4 linked regions of the Homo sapiens genome follow. The protein of the gene in region 3 purifies or fractionates together with the protein of the main gene of each other region. This does not show direct contact. Each region holds a gene or a part of one and is shown on either strand. Other genes may lie near its edges.

Region 1 (5,492 bases), on a different chromosome or scaffold from region 3:
TTCATTCCTCCACCCACAGAACCAGCCTGGAAACTTACCATGCAGATGAGGCAGGCCTCGGTTCACCCCTGCAATCTATAGGGACTGACAAACTAGCCTTCAATGTTCTGCTGCCTGTGGCTTTCTTTACCCAGGAGTTCATCTGTTTGAAAAGCACTGGGCAGAAGGTCAGATTTGTTCCGCCCCTATGTTTCCCAGGGTCAGCCTAGCTAGGTTCATTAGGATATCATATAGGACCTTGAAACCTGCTATCCCAGTGGAGTCTAGGGTGACCCCTAGTCGAACAAACCCCCTTGGCCATCTCAGCTCACACAGCTTGCCTGCGGGCTGCCCTCGCCCCCCAGCAGAGCCCTGCTGCCACCATCTGTGAGCCCCTGTTCCACTGGTCATCCTTTCACAAGTAGGGTTTGAAGACCGATCTTCTGGATGTTGTCTGATGACTTTCTTTCTATTGCATTCTTGCTATGGCCTGTCTCTGAATTTAGCAGCCCTAAATTCAAGTGTGCTGAGGTGCCGATAGCTCCACAATTTCTCATTCTTCTCTTTTCTTTCTCCTCAAAGGCTTTGGAGAGAATCACCTTGTGCAGCTGATTTACCACCAAAATGCAAATGGTTCCTGGGATCTGAATGAAGATCTAGCCAAGATCCTAGGTATGAGTTTGGAAGAAATAATGGCTGCACAGCCTGCCGAGGTAAGATTCAATGGAAAAAGGAGTATGTATGTTTTTGAGAGAGAGGTCATCATTGAGAATTGAGGTGATTCAGGACCTACCTGAGGAAGGAAAATATAGGGGGTCATAGACTAAATTAATTTGTAATAAATAGAGGCTGAAGGTTTTTCCAGTCATGTTAGAGCAGAAAGATCAAGGGATTAATGGGGAAGCTAGTAGGAATTGATGGGGTTTTTTTTGCTGGTGGATGACAAAGGGAAAGCAAAAATCCTCTTCCACTTTAATCGTATTCCCTGCCAATCATCTTGGTTATGTAACTAATACTTAGTGAGCAATTACTCTGTGCCAAGCACTGTGCTAAGCAGTTAATATTCATGAGCTTATTTATTTCACACATTAATTTAATAAGGTAGATCCCATTTGTGTTGCTGTTTATAGATGAAGAAACTGAAGTTCAGGGAGGTCTAAAAATGTGTCTGAGTTTACCTAGCCCATCAGTGGCAGAGCCAGATTCAGTTCTAAGAGTATCTGTCTTGAGAACCCCCAATAATAACCTCATTATTGCTCCTCTTCATACCGATGAAAGTGGTCCAGACATTGGCAAAAGTTAACTGAAGTCAGGATAGGTAAAGTGTTGTTACTAGGAACCACCTAGTTGTTTCAGATGTATTTAAATATGCTGATAAGGATAAATTGCATTCCAGAATTTCAAGGTAACTTACAAAATCTTCTAACGCTCATTGAGAAGTTGTTAGGCATGAGACAGGTGCAAAAAGCCTGAAGGACAAATATCATTCTAAACTTTCAAAATGTGGAAGGAGATCAAATAAATTTCAGATATTCTGCAATTCCACTGTCCAATACAGTATCCACTAGTCACATGTGGCTATTGTGCCTTTGAAACGTGGCTAATACAAATGAGGAACTGAATTTTTAATTCAATAGAGGTGTGCTATGGTGGGAAATACATACTAATTGCAAAGACTTTTATAAAAAGGAATAAAACATTTCATCAATAATTATTTTTATATTGATTGCATGTTAAAATGATGACTTTTTAATAGATTGGGTTAAATAAAATATATCAGTAAAATAATTATACCTCTTTTACTTTTTAAAATTTGGCTACCAGAAAATTTAAAATTACATATGTTTCTAGCATTATATTTTTATTGGAAAATGCTGTTCTAGAAAAGTAATTAAGATGATAATTCATACACACTTGGAAGAGGATACAGGGATTATTAGATGCACTGGGAACAAAAAACTTCAGACTGACATTTCCTTCTTTGGAATGGTAACCAGGCCAATGAATCAAGTGAACCAACAGACCTGGTATATCTGAATTTCAGTAAGGAATTTGATTTTTTTTTTAATGATGAGAACATGGACCAAGTACAAATTAGTTGAAAACCTATGGCGCTGAATGATGAATTGATTTCAAACATGAAACAGATTTTTAGACCCACCAGGCTCTGAATTCTCTGGAGGTCCACAGTTTCAATGAAGATTTAGATGAAGATAAAGACCAAGACTTTCCTATTTGTAGATGACAAAACTGGGAGATAAACTATCAGTCAAAAGAATCAGGATCCCAAAAAACCTCTGAACAATGAGTTGCAACTTTTCATTAAAAAAAAAGAAAAACAACATAGTAGGAATAAAAGCTAAGTACTGTTTTGGGTTCCAAATTCCCAACTCTACAGGTAGAGAAGAGAGCATTTGCACATGAAAATCAGAGGTTTTAGATGACTACAACTGTGTGAATCAGAATATTTAACTAAGAAATGGAGGACAACAGGGTTACCTGAAATGGGCTGTGATTGTAGAATTCTATAAGTACATTTACCTCCAGATAGACCATTTAAGGAGATATATTTTTAAAATCATTACGCTGTTTGTTTTTAGACTAGGAGAACAAGCGTGGGGATGCTTACTGCTTTGACATAAGCAGTCCTCTTAAGGAAGAAATGGAGGAATTGAGAATTCTAATCTGAAATAAGACCACTCAGAGAGGACATGATAGCCATTTCCAAGTTTTAAAAGTCATGATATAAAATAGGAATTTCCCTTGATCTCCTGACTCTGAAAGCTGAAGCTGGGAGCAGTGAGCGAAAACTCATGGGAGACAATTTTCTGCTGCATGGCTGAGATTTTCTATTGAGAAATAAGAGAATATAACTAGAGTCAGAATATTTGGCCTTTAGTCTCACTTCTGTCGTTTGCTAGACAGCTAAGTTTGAGCAAATCATTTTGTTAATACTTCTATATGAAATCAGTTTTCTTTCTTAAAAATGTTTATTGATATTTTTTCATGATTTCTTTGGTGGGGGGGTATAAGGGTTACAATTAAAAAAAACTTATGAAGGTTCTTTATAAACTATAAAGCAGTTTTGCCTGTGTTTCTCTTACTAGAGCTGGCCTTGTCTTAGGGGTTTCCAGAACCGTCCTGGTGGTTACACTGGATTTAAAACTTAGGATTTTCTATTTCGAGACTCAATGGATTGCTGCCCTGAGGTTTAAGGCCTGGCATTATGCCTTGCAAGTAGTATCTGGAGGTAAAGAGAGACCAGGTAACTCCATCTAGTGACATTTAGAAGGATGCTAAGTGAGGAGGGAGTGAAGCTTTTTGCATCCTTTTGAGGGACTTCCTGTGCCAACTGGAGCTCTCTATCTACTGTGCAGCTTGTGGATTCCTCAGGCTGGGCCACCATCCTGGCCGTGATCTGGCTGCACAGCAATGGTAAGGACTTGAAGTGTGAATGGGAGCTTCTGGAAAGGAAGGCCGTGGCCTGGATGCGTGCCCATGCAGGTAGGAGCACAATCCTAAGGCCTGTCTCCTTCCCCTTCCCTGGCCTGGCGGAAGGTGACCACAAGAGAGTCCCATTGTCACCTGCCTCCACCATCCTGCTTCAGATCTTTACTAATCTTTCTGCTAGTTCTTTTCTTGGGAGGACAAGGGTGAAATATTAAATTGGGGACAAGGTAGGTGGGTGAGTAGGGAGGGAGAGGGACACAAATGGGGAGTGTGAACTGTGAGAAGGACAAGTGGCATTGATTCTCCTTACTGTCTCAGTACCAAGCTGAGTAGAAGACTAGACTTGGTGCGTGTTCTCCTGGCTGTTTGTTATCTCACTGCAGCTGAGTGTATCTGGGGCCAGAGAAGATTCAAGGAGAATCTGGGTAGCAAGAAAAGAAAAAGCAGGGATATTGAGGACAGATAAAAGCACAACTCAGGGTAGATGATCTGGGAGGTTTGGAGGAGCCTCTAATTGCAATCCTTCATCCCTGCTTCTTGTTTTTCCTCACCACAGGCTCCACCATGCCTTCGGTTGTGAAAGCTGCTATTACTTTCCTGAAGTCATCTGTGGATCCTGCTATCTTTGCCTTTTGAAGATACCATCCAGAAAAAGAAGTGCCTTTAATTTGCTACTGTCATTTCCTCTAGTATCACTTTTGCTGTGATGATGTGTTCTTGTGTATTATAACTCTTTATTTTTTGCCATAAAAGTAAAGGATGCTTACTCCACTTCGCTTCTCTGCTCCAGGTTCACTTTGGATATGATCTTTCTTTTCCCAACATATGCCCTCAGAAAAGTGACAGTGGTCCCAGAACCTATTCCCTTTCTTGAGGGAGTTCAAAACATTCATAGGCAGTAATGTTCCTCCCAGGGTTTCCAGGGAAACAACATGAAAAACAGGTGACATGAACTACAGACTAAAGATTGCAGCATTTATGTTAGAGAATGCTTGAATTAGAGAATTTTCTGCATTATCTTTGTCTGTTCACTTTCTATCTTATATACTTATCAGGGCCATACTGGTAAGCTTGCGTAGGAGGAGTTAGAGGGAAGTTGAAAGCCAACATCTGGATCAATGTAATGTCAAGATCACAAAGACAGAGACTGCAGGGGTCCACTGTGAGAGGTGACACTGTTGGGGACCTTCCTGATTCATTCTTCTTGGGCTTTGCTAGCCTGTACAACCTACATGTCTTTTCTTCCACTGCCTGAAAGACTTGGGTTGAACTATAACTGTTGGAGAGAGATGTTCCTCTTTAATCATGAAACACCTTAAGAAGTCTATAATGCAATCCTTAGTCCTACCCTGAACCTATGTGTCCTCTAAGTCAGGCCCTGATCTAGTGCAGTAAAGGGAAGGGTGGGCTTAATGGGAGCTTTGCCTGGGACCTGAACCTGGAGCACTTACCGCATTAGGAAGAAAGGAGCTCCCCGTAATCGTTCCTGACCCTTGTGTCTCATATACCCTATCCTGGTGGAAATGACCCTATTTGATATGCTGTCCCTTAAAATAACTTGTATCAATATTAAAATGACTATTTCTACCCTTTGATGAGTAAATGCAGTGGTTCTTAAAGTGGTCTCGTCTCCCTACCCCACAATATTTTGGTACTGCCACTTTGGGAAGCCAAACTAGGATAGTAAATTGACCGGAACACAGTTGTGGAAATTTGACCTGAAGTTAGTGAAATAAAACTTAGTAGGGAAAAAAAGCTTAGCAAGAGGTCTACTCCTCCATAGATTCATTTATTGAACTTACATTGGTTTTATTGTCCCTTGTTTTCTGTTCCAGCTTTTCTGATGCCTCCACTGTTCCCATGGTATCCTGACCCTCTATCTTCTGTTGTAGGCTGACTTCTTTTATATGAAGCAAGTAAAGGATACTAATAAGAATACCACTGTAGAATCCTGACCATACCCTTAAATAGTTATGTGATGATGGGCAAATGATTTCACCCTCAGGCACTTAATATCCTCATCTGTAAAACTAAGGGATTAAACTAGAACTTTATTAACACTT
Region 2 (5,492 bases), on a different chromosome or scaffold from region 3:
TCCCCCAACATTGGGGATTACCGACTGGACATGAGATTTGGGCAGGGACACGAATTCAAACCTATCACCTACTATAGTAATGCACATTTATTAGGTGTTTGCTAGGGCCTGGGTTGTATAAGTTTCTATATCATTCCTATTAAACTTGGATTTGTAGTTCATTCTGTATTTGGAATTTAATTTAACTGCCTTCTATAAAATTGAATGGTACTTTTATCACCCATATTATCTATTGGGAGGATATTATTTTTGAGGAAGATTATTAGTTAAGTTATTTTATTTTTTCATCATAAATGAGACTCCCCCCATTCCGTAATAAGCTGCTCAGAGGCAGGAACATTGCCTGTTAACAGATGTACCTTACATGCCTAGAACGGTGCTTGGCATATGTAGGCACACAATACTTCTTTGTTTTAACAAAGATTAAATTGATACTTTTTGTTGTTTTGTTTTTCCAGAATTTATTCAACAAACCAACTGGAATGAATTCTTCAGTAGTGCCCTTGTCTCAGGGCCAAGTAATTGTAAGCATCCCCACAGGTTCCACAGTGTCAGCCGGAGGAGGTAGCACATCTGCTGTTTCTCCCACCTCCATCAGTAGCTCTGCTGCAGCTGGTCTCCAGCGTCTCGCTGCCCAGTCCCAGCATGTTGGGTTTGCACGAAGTGTTGTGAAACTCAAATGTCAACACTGTAACCGTCTTTTTGCCACAAAACCAGAACTTCTTGACTATAAGGTAAAGTATAGCATGTTCATGATAAGATTTTGAGTATACGTGGGTCTATTTGTAAAATTATTTTTAACTTTGCATCTCTCAAAATCATACCATTTGTTTTGAAAGTAAGGGAGATAAGGAGTTCCATAAGACAAACCAAATGTTTAATTAGTACTTAATGATTATTTCTTTGCAGGGCAAAATGTTTCAGTTCTGTGGCAAGAATTGTTCTGATGAATATAAGAAAATAAATAATGTAATGGCAATGTGTGAATATTGTAAAATTGAGAAAATTGTAAAGGAGACTGTTCGGTTCTCAGGTGCTGACAAGTCATTCTGTAGTGAAGGTAAAGACAGAAGATTATCTTACCTACTGAGCATGTTGGTTGTTTTAAAGCAGTTGATGATGATTTAAGCTTTCACTGTCTAAGTTAATCTGTTTTATTGTTTATGTATAACGTAAATGCCTTTTCGATTCATTTACACTTAGTTCATTCTTTTTTGATCTAGTTTTCTTATATTATGTAGCTGTTAAAATGAAGTGAAAGATTTGCAAAGTATAATGCAGAAGAAGATGATGTGAAAAACATTTAACATCCTTAGGTTCCCCATTATTAGGTTGATCGGGACCTCAAAGAGCTTCTAGTTCGTGTACTTATTTCTAAATGGGATGCCTTAAATTATGGTAACATTCTAAGTTTATACTTTTATTGTCTTAAACAGCCATTATATTTCTGAATATAAATGGCTTGAATATGCAAATTAATATGTGGAAGATTGTTTTCCTTAGATAACTCTTCTATATGTTTATAATGTTTTATTTTACTCTAAAGCTGTATTAGCCTTCTAGAGCAAGGGCTTTCAAACCTTTTGATAACACCAAAGAAGAAATACATTTACACTGTGACCCAGTATATTTTCACATACCTAAATAAAAGTTTTTTTTGTTTTTGTTTTTGTTTTTTGAGACAGAGTCTTGCTTTGTCACCCAGGCTGGAATGCCATGGAGCGATCTTGGCTCACTGCAACCTCTGCCTCCTGGGTTCAAGCGATTCTCCTGCCTCAACCTCCCGAGTAGCTGGGACTACAGGCACCCGCCACCACACCTGGCTAATTTTTGTATTTTTAGTAGAGACAGGGCTTCACCATGTTGGCCAGGCTGGTCTCCAACTCCTGACCTCAGGTGATCCACCCACTTTGGCCTCCCAGAGTGCTGGGATTACAGGTGTGAGCCACTACGCCCAGCCCCAAAAGTTTCATGAAATAAAATCGATGCAGTTTAATATTTTCTCTTCTGTGCTATCCTGTCTTATATCATTTAAAACAAAAACAAAAACAAAGCAAAACAAAAACTAGTATAGATACTCTAAAAAATCAAGATACTCTGTGAACTGGTCAGGACCCAAGTGTGAAAACTTTGTCCTAGACCACTTATTTTTCTTTTTTTTGTTTTTGTTTTTATTTGACATGGGGTCTTGCCATGTTGCCCAGGCTGGTCTCAAACTCCTGGGCTCAAGCACTCCTCCCGCCAGCCTCCCAAAGTGTTGGGATTACAGGTGTGAGCCACTGCACCGGGCCTGTCCTAGGCCATTTAAAGTTGCAGAAAACTAATACTTCTACCTAATGTTAATTTTATCTTTCCTGATTTTTAGGTTGCAAATTGCTTTATAAACATGACTTGGCAAAACGCTGGGGAAATCACTGTAAAATGTGCAGTTATTGTTTACAGACATCTCCCAAATTGGTACAGAATAATTTAGGAGGGAAAGTGGAAGAGTTCTGTTGTGAAGAATGCATGTCCAAATATACAGTTTTGTTCTATCAGGTAAATAGAATTCACATTCCTGGGTTTTTCATTCTAGGGCATAAATTATTCCCTTTTAAAATTTCATGTCACATAAAGGACAATTTAATTATTTAAAACTTTTAAGTATTAAATGTTTTATGCCTTCTAGCAATTAATATAAGATTTAGAAAGACTTTAATGTTATTGAAGTTTTCTTTTGTTTTTAATTTCCTGTAGGAGACATATCAGTCTTAAGACATTAAAATATTTAAACTTATAATTTTATTCACTTATTATTTAAATAAAGTGAATTTGTCTTCTGAAGTCTGAGGAAGATAGACCTTATTTTTATTTCACTTTGTTTTTTAATTGCTATAGAGTGAAGTCTGTATGTTACATGTGTTTTTTAAAAAAAATTAGTATAAAATCAGCTGGGCGCGGTGGCTCACGCCTGTAATCCCAGCACTTTGGGAGGCCGAGGCGGGTGGATCATGAGGTTAGGAGATCGAGACCATCCTGGCTAACATGGTGAAACCCCGTCTCTACTAAAAATACAAAAAAATTAGCTGGGTGTGGTGGCGGGCGCCTGTAGTCCCAGCTACCTGGGAGGCTGAGGCAGGAGAATTGCATGAACCCAGGAGGTGGAGCTTGCAGTGAGCTGAGATCACGCCACTGCACTCCAGCCTGGGCGATAGAGCAAGGCTCTGTCTCAAAAAAAAAAAAAAATATATATATATATGTGTGTGTGTGTGTGTGTGTGTGTGTATAATCATTGATAAAGACAAACTAATTTTTTGATCTAAATTCTAAGTTAATTTCGTCACTTGTTATGTGTGTCTTATTTTTATTTTGTCAGACCACAGATAATTTGTTTCTTACTCCTTGACTACCTTCTTCTTTTTAGATGGCCAAATGTGATGCTTGTAAGCGACAGGGTAAACTCAGTGAGTCCTTGAAATGGCGAGGGGAAATGAAACATTTCTGTAACCTGCTTTGTATCTTGATGTTCTGTAATCAGCAAAGTGTATGTGACCCGCCTTCACAAAATAATGCAGGTAAAATTAACCTTAGGTACTGAATGGAGTCTTTGGTCAATACTAGGAACTACTGTTCTTTTACAGATCAGGAACTGTGTAAACAGTTGTCATTAATTTCATGAAACCTCAGTTTCCTTGTATTCTGTATCAATAACATTTAGCTTTTTTTGTTGAACACCTTATTTCACTGTCGTCCGTGTGAAGAGACCACCAAACAGGCTTTGTGTGAGCAACAAGGCTGTTTATTTCACCTGGGTGCAGGCGGTCTGAGTCTGAAAAGAGTCAGTGAAGGGAGATGGGGTGGGGCCGTTTTATAAGATTTGGGTAGGTAAAGGAAAAAGGGGGGTTGTTCTCTGGCGAGCAGGAGTGGGGGTCACAAAGTGCTCAGTGGGGGAGCTTTTTGAGCCAGGATGAGCCAGGAAAAGGAATTTCACAAGGTAATGTCATCAGTTAAGGCAGGAACAGGCCATTTTCACTTCTTTTGTGTTGGAATGTCATCAGTTAAGGCAGGAACCGGCCATCTGGATGTGTACCTGCAGGTCAGAGGGGATATGATGGCTTAGCTTGGGCTCAGAGGCCTGACACCTTAGATTAAAGCTGAGTAAAAATGAGTTTTTGATTAAATAGATTTCTTTGAGAATATTGAATCAAATAAACTCTGTAAGAACTTAAATTTATGGGAAAGGATAACAGTTAATGGTTTGTAATTGAGTATAATTGGCTTCCTTAAAAAATCCTTTGAGACTACTTATAACAAAAGACATAAAGTCAAAATCACATGGCCTTTTAAATATACCATGTGCAGGCCAGATGTGATGGTTCATGCCTGTAATCCCACCGCCTTTGGAATGCTGAGGTGGGAGGACGGCTTGAGGCCAGGAGTTCAGGGGTGGAGTGAGCGGTGACCACAGCACAGCAATCCCAGCTGGATGATATAGTGAGACCCTGCCTCTAAAAAATTAAAATAAAATAAAACTATATGTCGTGGGCGTGACTAGTTGGGGCCAGTGTCACGGGCTGTAAAGGAATTTACCAAGACAGTCATAGGTAAAGGCAGATTTATTGGAGAAAGTGTGAAAATATGTTGCAAGGTTGCAGTGAGCAGCACAGCAGAGAAGGGGAAGTCTGCAAAGACGCAGCGGCTTGAGGGACGTTTTACATGGTCCTGCTGGAGGGGACTGCTTGCAGAATGTAGCCGTGCTCCTGGGGCTACCTGTAGGAGGTCATCTCTCAGAGTAATTACTCATTGTTCTCCCCCACCTGGGCCCCTTCCTCTTTGTTGCTTACTTACCTTGTCAGGACTTACTTATCTTATCAGGACTACACACTATGTGCTAGGCCACTTTATCTCAGAAAATTTATTATTTAAAAACAACACTAGTATCATCCTGAAAGCTAGAAGAATTTAAGTGTAGTCTCCTTACAAATAAAAGCAAAATCTACAAGAGCCTACTCCAAAACTTAAAAAAAAATTATTTCTATATAAAGGCAAGATTTAAGAAAAACATTAGGCTGAATTGTCCATTAAATCTAACCTGTGATCTTCATTGGTATTGTGTGTTTGAGGATTTGCATTGTTGGTTTTTAAGTTGGTTTTTAAGTTAGACTATTTGTTGCCTTTTTTATGTAAAGATAAAGTTAATAGAAAACTTTCAAGTTTTACTAATTAAAAAGTAGAAAACCAGGGTATGGTGGCTCATGCCTGTAATCTCAGCACTTTGGGAGGCTGAGGCAGGCGGATCACGAGGTCAGGAGTTTGAGACCATCCTGGCCAACATGGTGAAACCCCGTCTCTACTAAAATACAAAAAATTAGCTGGGTGTGGTGCTGCGCACCTGTAGTCCCAGCTACTTGGGAGGCTGAGGCAGGGGAATCGCTTGAACCCGGGAGGTGGAGGTCGCTGTGAGCTGATATCGTGCCACTGCACTCCAGCCTGGGCAGCAGAGTGAGACTCTG
Region 3 (5,124 bases):
TTATTTTTTTAATAGTGCATACACATGGTTTGTCAAATTTTAATTTCCGACTTAAGTATGAAGAAATAGTACAGGTGGCAAAGCACTACCATCCATAAGTCTATAAAATATAAAATAGCCATATTAGCTAAATAAAGAACTCTTAAAATTTTCCCAGGAATTTCATTTGAAACAAAACATGTAGTTTTTCTTAAGCTTTTGGACTGGTAAGTGGCATTTATGAAAGAAACATTCCTTCTAGCAAACTAAGATGTGCTTCTCTCTTGCAAAGTTTCCTGCTTTTCGCCATTGAATTTTAAATCATTCTTCAACAAAGCCTGTCAAGAATAAGTAACATGATGTCCTCTTTAGTGCCTTCCACTCCATCCAATTACCATCTCAATACTTAATATTGATGATTGGGTGCATCCATGATTCTGATCATTTCTTACTGTGGTTGATGTGTCCACTTATCTAGATCTGTGTACCCTTTTTGTCTTTATTTGAAAGTATGTGAAATATTATCTGTTTTAAAGTGTTTTAGGCTGGGCATAGTGGCTCACGCCTGTAATCCCAGCACTTTGGGAGGCCAAGGCAGGCGGATCATTTGAGGTCAGGAGTTCAAAACCAGCATGGCCAACATAGTGAAACCCCATCTCTACTAAAAATACAAAAATTAGCCAGGCATGGCCAGGCGCAGTGGCTCACGCGTGTAATCCCAGCACTTTGGGAAGCCGAGGCAGGCAGATTATGAGGTCAGCAGATCGAGACCATCCTGGCTAACACAGTGAAACCCTGTCTCTACTAAAAATACAAAAAATTAGCTGGGCGTGGTGGCGGGCGCATGTAGTCCCGGCTACTCTGGAGGCTGAGGCAGAAAAATGGCATGAACCCAGGAGGCGGAGCTTGCAGTGAGCCGAGAGCGCGCCACTGCACTCCATCCTGGGCAACAGAGCTGCCGTCTCAAAAAAAAGATTAGCCAGGCATGATGGTGGGTGCCTGTAATCCCAACTACTCAGGAGGCTGAGGCAGGAGATTCGCTTGAGCCCAGGAGGTGGAGGTTGCAGTGAGCAGAGAACGCACCACTACACTCCAGTCTGGTGACAGAGCAAGGCTCCATCGCAAAACAACAACAACAACAACAAAAAAAAAACACAAAAGTATTTTAAAGCTGTTTATTCTACTGGAACACATTTGATGTAAGTATTAATTTGGTACAACCTTTTATGGGGGCCAGTTCAACATTATGTATCAAATAGTTTAAAGTTTTTAAACTTTTTAACCCAGTAATTACACTTCCAGGACTTTAATATGATGTTGCAGATGCACATTTAACAAATGAAAGAAATATATGTCAGCTAGAAAAAAGCATATTACTGAATAATTTGTATGACATAATTCCCAATGTTGGGAAAAAAGAAGTTTGTATCTGCACATACACACACACACACACACACACACACACACACACACACACACAAGATTGGAAGGATAGACACTGAAAAGTGACCTCTGGCCTCATCCGTGATTTTATTTATTTCTTTAAAATTTTTACAGTAACATACCTGGTGTTTGAGATACTTTTCTAAAAAATCAATTTTTTAATACCTACCACTCAAAAGGCCATGAATATTGAATGGGCTTTGCACAATGCCCAGGCAAAAGCAACAACAGCAAACGAAGAAACAATGTGCACTCCAACACTTGGTGAAATCTGCTTGATGATTTGAGAAGTGATAAAAATAGATTTTGTGATTACAATAGCTTTTGAAGCTAAAGCTTTGCACATGACAGAGCTTTCATGCTAGTGGCCCACAGCACTGGGTTGAGTCATTTACTAAATGGAAAAAAATGATTGAAAAATTAATGTTGGGCTTTATTTCTGAAGTCTCATTGACAAGAAGAAAATAACAAAGCTGTTTTTCATTTTGTTTATCCTGAAAGTCTTCAACAAGTGATTACTCAAAGTTCTTAGAGCAGTTGTTTCTCTTCTATGCTGTCTAGATCTCCAGATCACACTAAGTTTGTGGGAAGCTTCAAAACCAAACAAGACTTCATAGATTTGATTGAAGTAATCTATCGAGGAGCAATGAGGGGGAAGCTTATTGTCCAAAGTCCTATTGATCCCAAGAATATTCCCAAATATGACCTTCTCTATCAAGACATTTAGTACATTAATTGCTGTCAAAGATGAAGAAGAAGGCACATCTTGACACAGTACCTGAATCCAGCTGTGCTGTGTTTCTGGAGTCCTTTGGAAACATGTGTCCCAGAGGAGAAGAGGTTTGACTTGCGTGTAGAAAACCCGGCCCCTGAGGAAAAGACCCCACTGGTTCTCTGATGACCTGGGATGCCTAACTGTCTACTCCCTGCAAGCCTCAGAGCAGCCAAGTCATTGGTGTTCATTTTCCCCACAGTGATTTTTGTAACTTCTCTTTCTAATGTTTTTCTTTATCCCTTTAATACAGAACCCTCCCAAACATTGGCTAGTACAACTTGATTTCATCATGTTCATTTGATACACAAGTGAACTGGAAAGTCACTTCCCATAGAAGCAAAAGTACTTATTTTCTACCCTAGCTGGGTGCATGTGTGTGCACACACACACACACACACACCCCCACACCCCTTTGCCGGTTCCTCGACTCATACATCCCTCGTGCTTTCCCATCTCCAGTCTGTATTACTGTAGGTTCTCTTCAAATAATTAATTGAGCAGACAAGTTTGTTTTATTTTGGAGCCTTTTTGGCTCTGGCTTTTAAACATTGTCCTGGTTGGCTCATTTAATTTTTTTTTTTTTTTTTGAGACCGAGTCACTCTTGTCACCCAGGCTGGAGTGCAGTGGCGCGATCTCGGCTCACTGCAAGCTCCACCTCCTGGGTTCATGCCATTTTCCTGCTTCAGCCTCCTGAGTAGCTGGGACTACAGGCGCCCGCCACCATGCCCAGCTAATTTTTTGTATTTTTATAGAGGCGCAGTTTCACCGTGTTAGCCAAGATGGTCTCGATCTCCTGACCTCGTGATCTGCCCTCCTCAGCCTCCCAGGTGCTGGGATTATAGGCGTGAGCCACCGCGCGCACCCCATTTAATTATTTTTTATGTTATAAAATTTAATATGGAAAGTGAGAATTTGAACCTTCACCATCCACCACTCTATTCAGGTAAAACAATGAATGAGCCACCTTAGCAGGAGCAGATTTTTCCCAGAAGCTGCTGCCTCTTCCTGAGGCAGAAAATTGGATTACTAAGGCTCAAAACTAAAAGAGATGTCAGCATTGTTGGATAGAAATGTCACCTATATGGGATTTGCCTGTTTTAATAACTTTGTAAGGAATTCTTGCTCTTCTAGGGGTGCCTGGCGCAACCGTGGGCAAGTTACTGCTCCTCTTTAAACCTCGTGGTGGTTATTGAAACAGATTTATTAGAAGGAGAGGGTAGGTGCAGAGCTGGAGAGCCATGGGTGAGGCAGCTTGTGACCTGCCTAGCAGCCGCTGACCACCTCTCCAACAGAAGCCTAGTCCTGTTCAGAGCAGCACTGTCACTGCAAGTCCAGCCCCCTTTGCCAGGGGCTCCATTCCACCCCTTTCCTGCAGGGAGGGGTGCCATGAGTCTTGCTTTTGGCTCATACAGGAGAGAGGGAAGGCTGCCAGGCACTGCTTGTATCCCTGCTGATAAGAGGAGGGAGTCACTCCAGGAATAAGACAAAAGGAGAGGAGGAGGCCATCACCTCTGGCCTCTTCCATCGTACACTTCCTGTCTCTGGTTTAATCATGATGCATGGAGCTACAACAGCCATCTTAGGTCCCCGAGGTGCCCAGCATCACGTAAAACATCGATATGCTAAGAAGAACAAAAAGAGCCCAATCTCTGATGTTATTGAGCTCCTGCATGAACTCTGGACCTGCCTGCCTCAGACTTCTGTGAAAGAATAAAATTTCTTTTTGCCTAAGTCACTGTTAGTTGGGTTTTCTGTTCTTCAGCCCAGATCACACAGTATTTGCGGTATGGTAAGCACTCAGCGCACCAGCCAAAACTCAGAACCTGCGTGTGCAAAATTATCATGTCTTCTTCCTCCTGTTAGAAATAAGTTCTCTTATTTCTGAGTGCCGCAGAGGAAGAGGAGCACTCAGAAGAAAAGTTTCTCAGCAAGGCAAAGTTTACTTCTGCAGAAGGGTGCTGCCCGCGCCTATAGCAGTCGCAAAAGCACACCTAACAAAGGAGAACAGGTTTCTAACCCTAACGCAGTTCCTGCTTCTTTGTCTTTCCCCCATTGGCTGGGGTTGGACCGCACAGTCTAGGCTGACTCCAATTGGCTATGCGCTTGAATCTTTCTCAAATAAGGCAGAGGGTAAAGGTTACAGGTTAAGGTTTGGAGCAAGGCGGTTTACAGCCTATGACAAGAAAGTTGGATCTTTGAAGAGGAACCTTTCTTTTATTCTGACAATTTCCCCCTTTTTGTTGTTATAATTCTTCCTCTTCAAATTATTTTAGTAAGATTTGGCTTTGTTGCTCTTCTTGATTGTCTAGGAGTAAAAGTTGGTCTGAATATGGAGGGGGAGAGACAGAGAAGGTTTTAGTGCAAGCCATTTCTATGAGTCTTTGAACTAACCCACAAACACAAGGTGTGATGCAACAGCCTACAAGGATGAGTGCACTTGTAACAATGGCAAGGGAAGTGAGGATAGAGGCCATAAGTCCTTTCCATTTACCAAACCATCTTTTGGTTAAACCTGTGAAGGGGTCATCTATTCCAGAATTTTCAGCCAGCTCATTTGCTAGGGTGGTGAGGCCTTGTAGAGCCTTGGTAGTGGTTCCATCGGGAGCTGTGTTATTTGGGATCAAAGTACAACATTGGGCTCTGATGATTACACAAACTCTGCCGTTTTCTGCTAATGTCATGTCAAGAGCTATCCTGTTTTCCCAGGCCATTTGGCTGGTGGGACCAAATTGCTCGGCTATCCCCAAATGGTATCTCTGGTATAATTAACAAATCCTTGTTGATTGTAATATATATAGTTTATCCAGTCTACGTTTTTGTTTATAGTAGACCACCAAAATAAGACTGACTCAAACCTGGCAGCTATTTGATTTCGAGCTTTAAATTCATTGGCGGCTACTCGTGGTACTCCAATTGCCTCTATATA
Region 4 (5,492 bases), on a different chromosome or scaffold from region 3:
GATTCTCCTGCCTCAGCCTCCCAGGTAGCTGGGACTACAGGCATGTGCCACCACGCCTGGCTAATTTTTTTGTATTTTTAGTAGAGATGGGGTTTCACCATGCTGGCAGGCTGGTGTCGAACTCCTGACCTCAACTGATCCACCCGCCTCGGCCTCCCAAATTGCTGGGGTTACAGACGTGAGACTCCATGCCCATCCCAATGTATATATTTTTAAATGGAATATTAACATCAGCAGGTTAGTCTGGTATTGGTACATAGAATAGGTTAGGTATGATGGCAAGAGCTAGAACACTTGTGGAGTAATGAGGTATATGCCTCCTTACAAGTATATGTTGGTGCAAAAGTAATTGCAGTTTTTGCCATTCCTAATACTAGCATTCTAAATGTCAAAGGGCATAAATCTAAGGTATTTTAAAGAAAGTAATAACAGGGCTTTGTAAACAGTAAGATTGAAGACAGTAAGCTTAGGGGAAAAGATGTATGGAGAGTCTTAACACTTGAATCAGACTACAACAGTGTATATTTTTCACATAATAGATTTATATTGCATATTGTGGCCTGGAGAAAAAGTTCAGTGCCCTATAAACCAAAATGTCTGATCTCTTAGAATGCCTCATTTCCTAATATGTCCGAAGATGAGTATTTCCTAAATTTGTTTCCAATTTAAATATTTTGAGCACATTTCAACAAATGTCAGAGACTTACAAAATAGGAAAGGATATACCCTAAGAGACTGTAAGCTTCTTGGGGGCTTTTTGACACTAATTTTAGAGTGTTTAGAAACTTTTTAACATTCATTTTTGTAACCCCAGCACAGTGCATAACATTTTGTAAATGTTCATTTTTTGTGGAAAAGTGAATTCAAACTTTTGTTTAAAATTTGCTTTTTATGTGTGGCTAATTCTACGCAGTGAATAAATAAGCTATGCATAAATAACCATGTGTTAACTACAATTTTATAAAGGTTTGTGTGTTTTTTTTCTGGTTGTAGAAAGGTATATTTACTTTTATTGTTCTTTAAAGAGTAATGACCTGTTCATTAGCTTACACCTGTTTTGCAACATTTTAGGCATTGTATGAGAGGAAATTTCCAGTTCCAAAGCCAATTGATTACAATCGTCATGCAGTGGTCATGGAACTCATAAATGGTTATCCACTGTAAGTATTCATTATTCTTAAAGCCATGAATCCTGATAAATGAATTTAAGTTTCAGGGTTTTTAATAAAATTTTTTTTAGTTAATGAAATATTGCCTCTGGGAGGTTAAAATTTATTTAAAGGAATAGACTCAAAGACAAATTAAAAACCCAGTTTCATTCTGACAATATGAACTTTGTAATCTCTGTGATTCATTCATTCATTCAATATTAAGAGACTGTTAGGTGCCAGGAACTTTTAATCTCAGCAGTGAACAAAACAAAGTCCCTGCCCTCATGGAATTTACATTCTGATGGAAGGAGATGTGCAATAAATAACTAAAGGAAATGTATATCAATTGTTAGTAAGTACTATGGATAAAAAAAAGCAGAGTAAGGGAGATAGGAAGTACTAACGGGACAGGAGACTACTGTTTTATGTAGGGTGGTCAAGAAAAGTCTCACTAATAAGGTGAAACCTCATCAAATTTTGATTCAGATTAGCAGCTATTGGAGTGGGAGTATTTTGAGCAGAGAAGAGATGTGATCTCATCAATCAGTGATCTCAGTGTTTTCAGAGGGTCACTCTGCTTGCTGAATTAATAGACTCTGGGGAGACAAAGAATTAGGAAGACAAGTTAAGAGGCTATTACAATAATCTAGGCAAGAAATGGTTGTAATTCTGATTACAGTGATAGTTGTGAAGGTGATGAAAAGTGGTCAGATTCTGAATGTGTTCTGCAGGTTGAACCAACATGATTTGAGATTGGATATGGATGTGAAGGAAGGGATGAGTCAATGGTGACACCAAGGTTTTTCCCCTGAGTAGCAAATTAACTGGAAGGAGAAATCTACCATGTATAGAAACAGGAAAGCTACAGGAACAGCATTTTGGAGTTGGAGGGTGGGACAGAATCAGAGATTCCATTTTGGACATGCTAAGTTTGAGATGCCTGGGAGTTAGAGAAGTCTACATTAAAATCAGTGTATATGTGGTATTTAAACCATTAACCTAGATGAGATCACCAAGAATGAGTCTAAATAAGAGAAAATAAAAGGTCATAGGATTGACCTTTGAGGAACTCCAGAATTTAGAGGTCAAGGAAAAAGATGAAGTACAAATAGAAAAGACTAAGAAGGTATGATCTGTGAGGAAGGAAGAACACCTGGAGAGAATGGTGTCCCAAGAGTTAAGTGAAGAAAATGTTCAAAGAGGTCAACTGACAGACCACATATGATGAGGACTAAGAATTGACCTTTGGATTTAGCAACATTGAAGTCATTGTAGTCTCAACAAGGGTGATCTTGGAAGCACTTTGGCCTCCCAAAGTGCTAGGATTACAGGGGTGAGCCATTGCGCCTGGCCCGTACATGCTATTATTGATTCTGGATGTGGGTGTGTTTGTTTAGAATATAATCATTTTTTCATAATTTTTCAATTTTGTGATACTATTATTTAGGTCACTCACTGGTTTGAAGTGGCTAGTGTTAACGTTATAAAAAGCCTGTTTGAAATGGTATGAGAGAGTAGGAGGAAACAAATTGGAAAAGCACATGTAGACAAGTTTGGCTGTAAAGATCAAAGAAAGGTAGTAGTAGAAAAGAGATACAGAATTGAAGCAGTGTGGCTATTTTTTTAATAGATGGGAGATATTATATCTGTGTGCTGATGGGAATGAGAAGAAAGCTGCTGGGGATACACAGCATGGAAATAATATATATGTTCACATGCATACATACTTTCGTTAAAACCGTAAATGAACACAAGTAACCTATTTTCATGCTTAAAATACTTTCAGATGTCAGATACACCATGTTGAAGATCCTGCATCAGTATATGATGAAGCTATGGAACTAATTGTCAAACTTGCAAATCATGGGCTGATTCATGGAGATTTTAATGAATTTAATCTCATTTTGGATGAAAGTGACCATATCACCATGATTGATTTTCCACAGATGGTTTCAACTTCTCATCCCAATGCTGAGTGGTACGTACTTGCTATTTTTTTATTTTTATTTTATTTTATTTTTTTGGAGACGGAGTTTTGCTTGTTGCCCAAGCTGGAGTGCAATGGCGCGATCTCGGCTCACTGCAACTTCCACCTCCCGGGTTCAAGCAATGCTCCTGCCTCAGCCTCCCGAGGAGCTGGGATAACAGACATGTGCCACCACACCTGGCTAATTTTTTGTATTTTTTTTTTTAGTAGAGATGGGGTTTCTCCATGTTGGTCAGGCTGGTCTTGAACTCCTGACCTCAGGTGATCCACCCGCCTCGGCCTCCCAAAGTGCTGGGATTACAGGGGTGAGCCATTGCGCCCGGCCCTTACATGCTATTATTGATTCTGGATGTGGGTGTGTTTGTTTAGAATATAATCATTTTTTCATAATTTTTCAATTTTGTGATACTATTATTTAGGTCAGTCACTGGTTTGAAGTGGCTAGTGTTAACGTTATAAAAATTTGGTTTTTTATTAAAGTATAACTACTAGAGTTTTCCCCATAAGAATTTGAATTTCTCTGTTGTAAATTGACAGACGTTCAAAAGTCAAATTTTCTTAGCCATGGAACCCTTTGTTCAAACAGACTTTTAGATGGAAGACCAATTGTTAAAACAGGTAAAAGTAGGGAGTGTAGTGGGGAACTCTAGAACCACTTTTGTCTTTCCCTTTTTCTTGCTGTTCCATGATTGCCTCCAAGAGAGATTCACCAAGTATAACTCAGTAATCTCGATGATCTGAATAAAAGTTGTGGTTTTGGACTGGACTCAGTTGTCAAACCAGTGATAATTACCTCTTGTCACTTTTAGCTTTATTTATTAGAAAAAAAATCACATAAAACTTTATCTCTGACACAGTGCAGAATCATGATATACTGCGATAATCATATTCTTCACATTACTTATTTAAACCAAGCCAGCCAAGTCATGAAACAGGACCTTATCCTTTATTTGCTTGAGGTTTATGATTCAATTGAGTGTAACTAAGGATTTTTTTTTCTTTCTGTTCCAAGCTTTATGAGAAACTTTTTTCCTAAACTAACAACTAGTATCACTTATATAATAGAGTATATTAATTCTTCCAGAGATTGAGCTTGAAGTAGTTTTGTTAAGTGAAGCGTCTCTTCATCCTGGTTTCCAGTAGAAAATGTCTATACTTATGCTACAGAAAGAAATGTCATTTGAAAATAAATTTTTAAAACGTTTTCAACAAAATAATACTAAAAGATTAATGCCTGGCACTGGGGTGGTCAGTACTCTTTGGATGATGACTAATCATGATTTTTATTAATAAGGAGTAACATAGTCACACAGTAAAGGAACATCTAGGAGCCTCCAGAGTGTGACAGATTATGACATTCTAGGTTTAGGCTGCATCGTTCTATGGAGAGACATTGTGATTTAATTTCAATTTTTATGAACCAGTTCTGGGGCCAAGGAGCTGTGCTAATTGCTAGAGATTGAGATATAAATAACCCCTATATATGCTTTAGAAAATGTTACTGTCTCGTAGGGAGATGTAAACATATATAAAATAGTCTTTTTAAAATGTATTAGTATTTTTCCCAGAGTACCCTGTGAGCAAAGAGGAGAGGCATTATCTTCCTATTTCCAAACTTCATCTTTCTCAAAGAGAGTCAATTGCACATTATCCTGTCCTTAATTCTCCCTTGTCTGGAAATCTTCTAGAGAATTGAATCCATTTTTGCTGCTTTGTGGTGGCCCAAAAAGGCAGCCTGATATTCAGATATTGTTCTACTTTTGGTCCAGATTAACATGTCCTCAGATTATTTTTATAGGCTGTAGCATTATTTATCCCTTTGGGTGTTATTGCAAATCGGCTAATGGATAACAAAGATACATAAACATAATTCAGTAGTCTCCAAACTTAACTGTTTAATATTAATATCTTTTTATCGTCAGATCTTTCAGTTGGCTAGGGGTTCTAGTGAGTGTTGCTGATAAGAAGCATAGCCAGACTCAGGACGAACAGAATAAGTGGAAACCTATCCCCAAACCATAGGCCCATTATCTTATTTCCTGGGGTTCACATTCATCTTTCCCTAGTGTATCTAACTATATACCAGTAACTATGACAAAACCTTGACTTTCCTAACCGTAGGAACTGCATGGCATTGACAGCTTATATCCTTGAGATTTCCTTGGATTTTAGTTTTTCAAACACACTGGTTAACTCATTTGTATCTTTTTTCTTTTGTGTAACATCTTTTATCTCCTTGTGTAAGGAGGAGCAATACCATTAACCAATAAGTATATTGTCATTGGCTAATAAGGAAAAAGAGGAGCAATAAAGACTATATCATAAATGATTCTTGCTTTTGCAGGTATTTTGAC

The links.
Region 1: the proteins of TXNL4B (region 3) and VWA5A purify together in Homo sapiens (affinity purification with mass spectrometry; one large-scale study listed by BioGRID and IntAct). This does not show direct contact.
Region 2: the proteins of TXNL4B (region 3) and ZMYM4 purify together in Homo sapiens (affinity purification with mass spectrometry; one large-scale study listed by BioGRID and IntAct). This does not show direct contact.
Region 4: the proteins of TXNL4B (region 3) and RIOK2 purify together in Homo sapiens (affinity purification with western blotting, with the first as the bait; one study listed by BioGRID). This does not show direct contact.

Annotation. Positions count from the first base shown.
Region 1 is NC_000011.10:124,141,881-124,147,372, forward strand, and holds part of VWA5A (von Willebrand factor A domain-containing protein 5A), read left to right. Parts: intron 1-561; coding exon 562-692; intron 693-3,356; coding exon 3,357-3,483; intron 3,484-3,985; coding exon 3,986-4,065; 3' UTR 4,066-5,492. UniProt on the Homo sapiens protein: May play a role in tumorigenesis as a tumor suppressor. Altered expression of this protein and disruption of the molecular pathway it is involved in, may contribute directly to or modify tumorigenesis.
Region 2 is NC_000001.11:35,386,545-35,392,036, forward strand, and holds part of ZMYM4 (zinc finger MYM-type protein 4), read left to right. Parts: intron 1-458; coding exon 459-734; intron 735-909; coding exon 910-1,060; intron 1,061-2,365; coding exon 2,366-2,538; intron 2,539-3,403; coding exon 3,404-3,554; intron 3,555-5,492. UniProt on the Homo sapiens protein: Plays a role in the regulation of cell morphology and cytoskeletal organization.
Region 3 is NC_000016.10:72,083,662-72,088,785, reverse strand, and holds the end of TXNL4B (thioredoxin-like protein 4B), read left to right. Parts: intron 1-1,983; coding exon 1,984-2,149; 3' UTR 2,150-3,610; coding exon of another isoform or gene 3,611-3,680; 3' UTR 3,681-3,929; downstream 3,930-5,124. UniProt on the Homo sapiens protein: Essential role in pre-mRNA splicing. Required in cell cycle progression for S/G(2) transition.
Region 4 is NC_000005.10:97,168,843-97,174,334, reverse strand, and holds part of RIOK2 (serine/threonine-protein kinase RIO2), read left to right. Parts: intron 1-1,071; coding exon 1,072-1,160; intron 1,161-2,937; coding exon 2,938-3,129; intron 3,130-5,482; coding exon 5,483-5,492. UniProt on the Homo sapiens protein: Serine/threonine-protein kinase involved in the final steps of cytoplasmic maturation of the 40S ribosomal subunit. Involved in export of the 40S pre-ribosome particles (pre-40S) from the nucleus to the cytoplasm.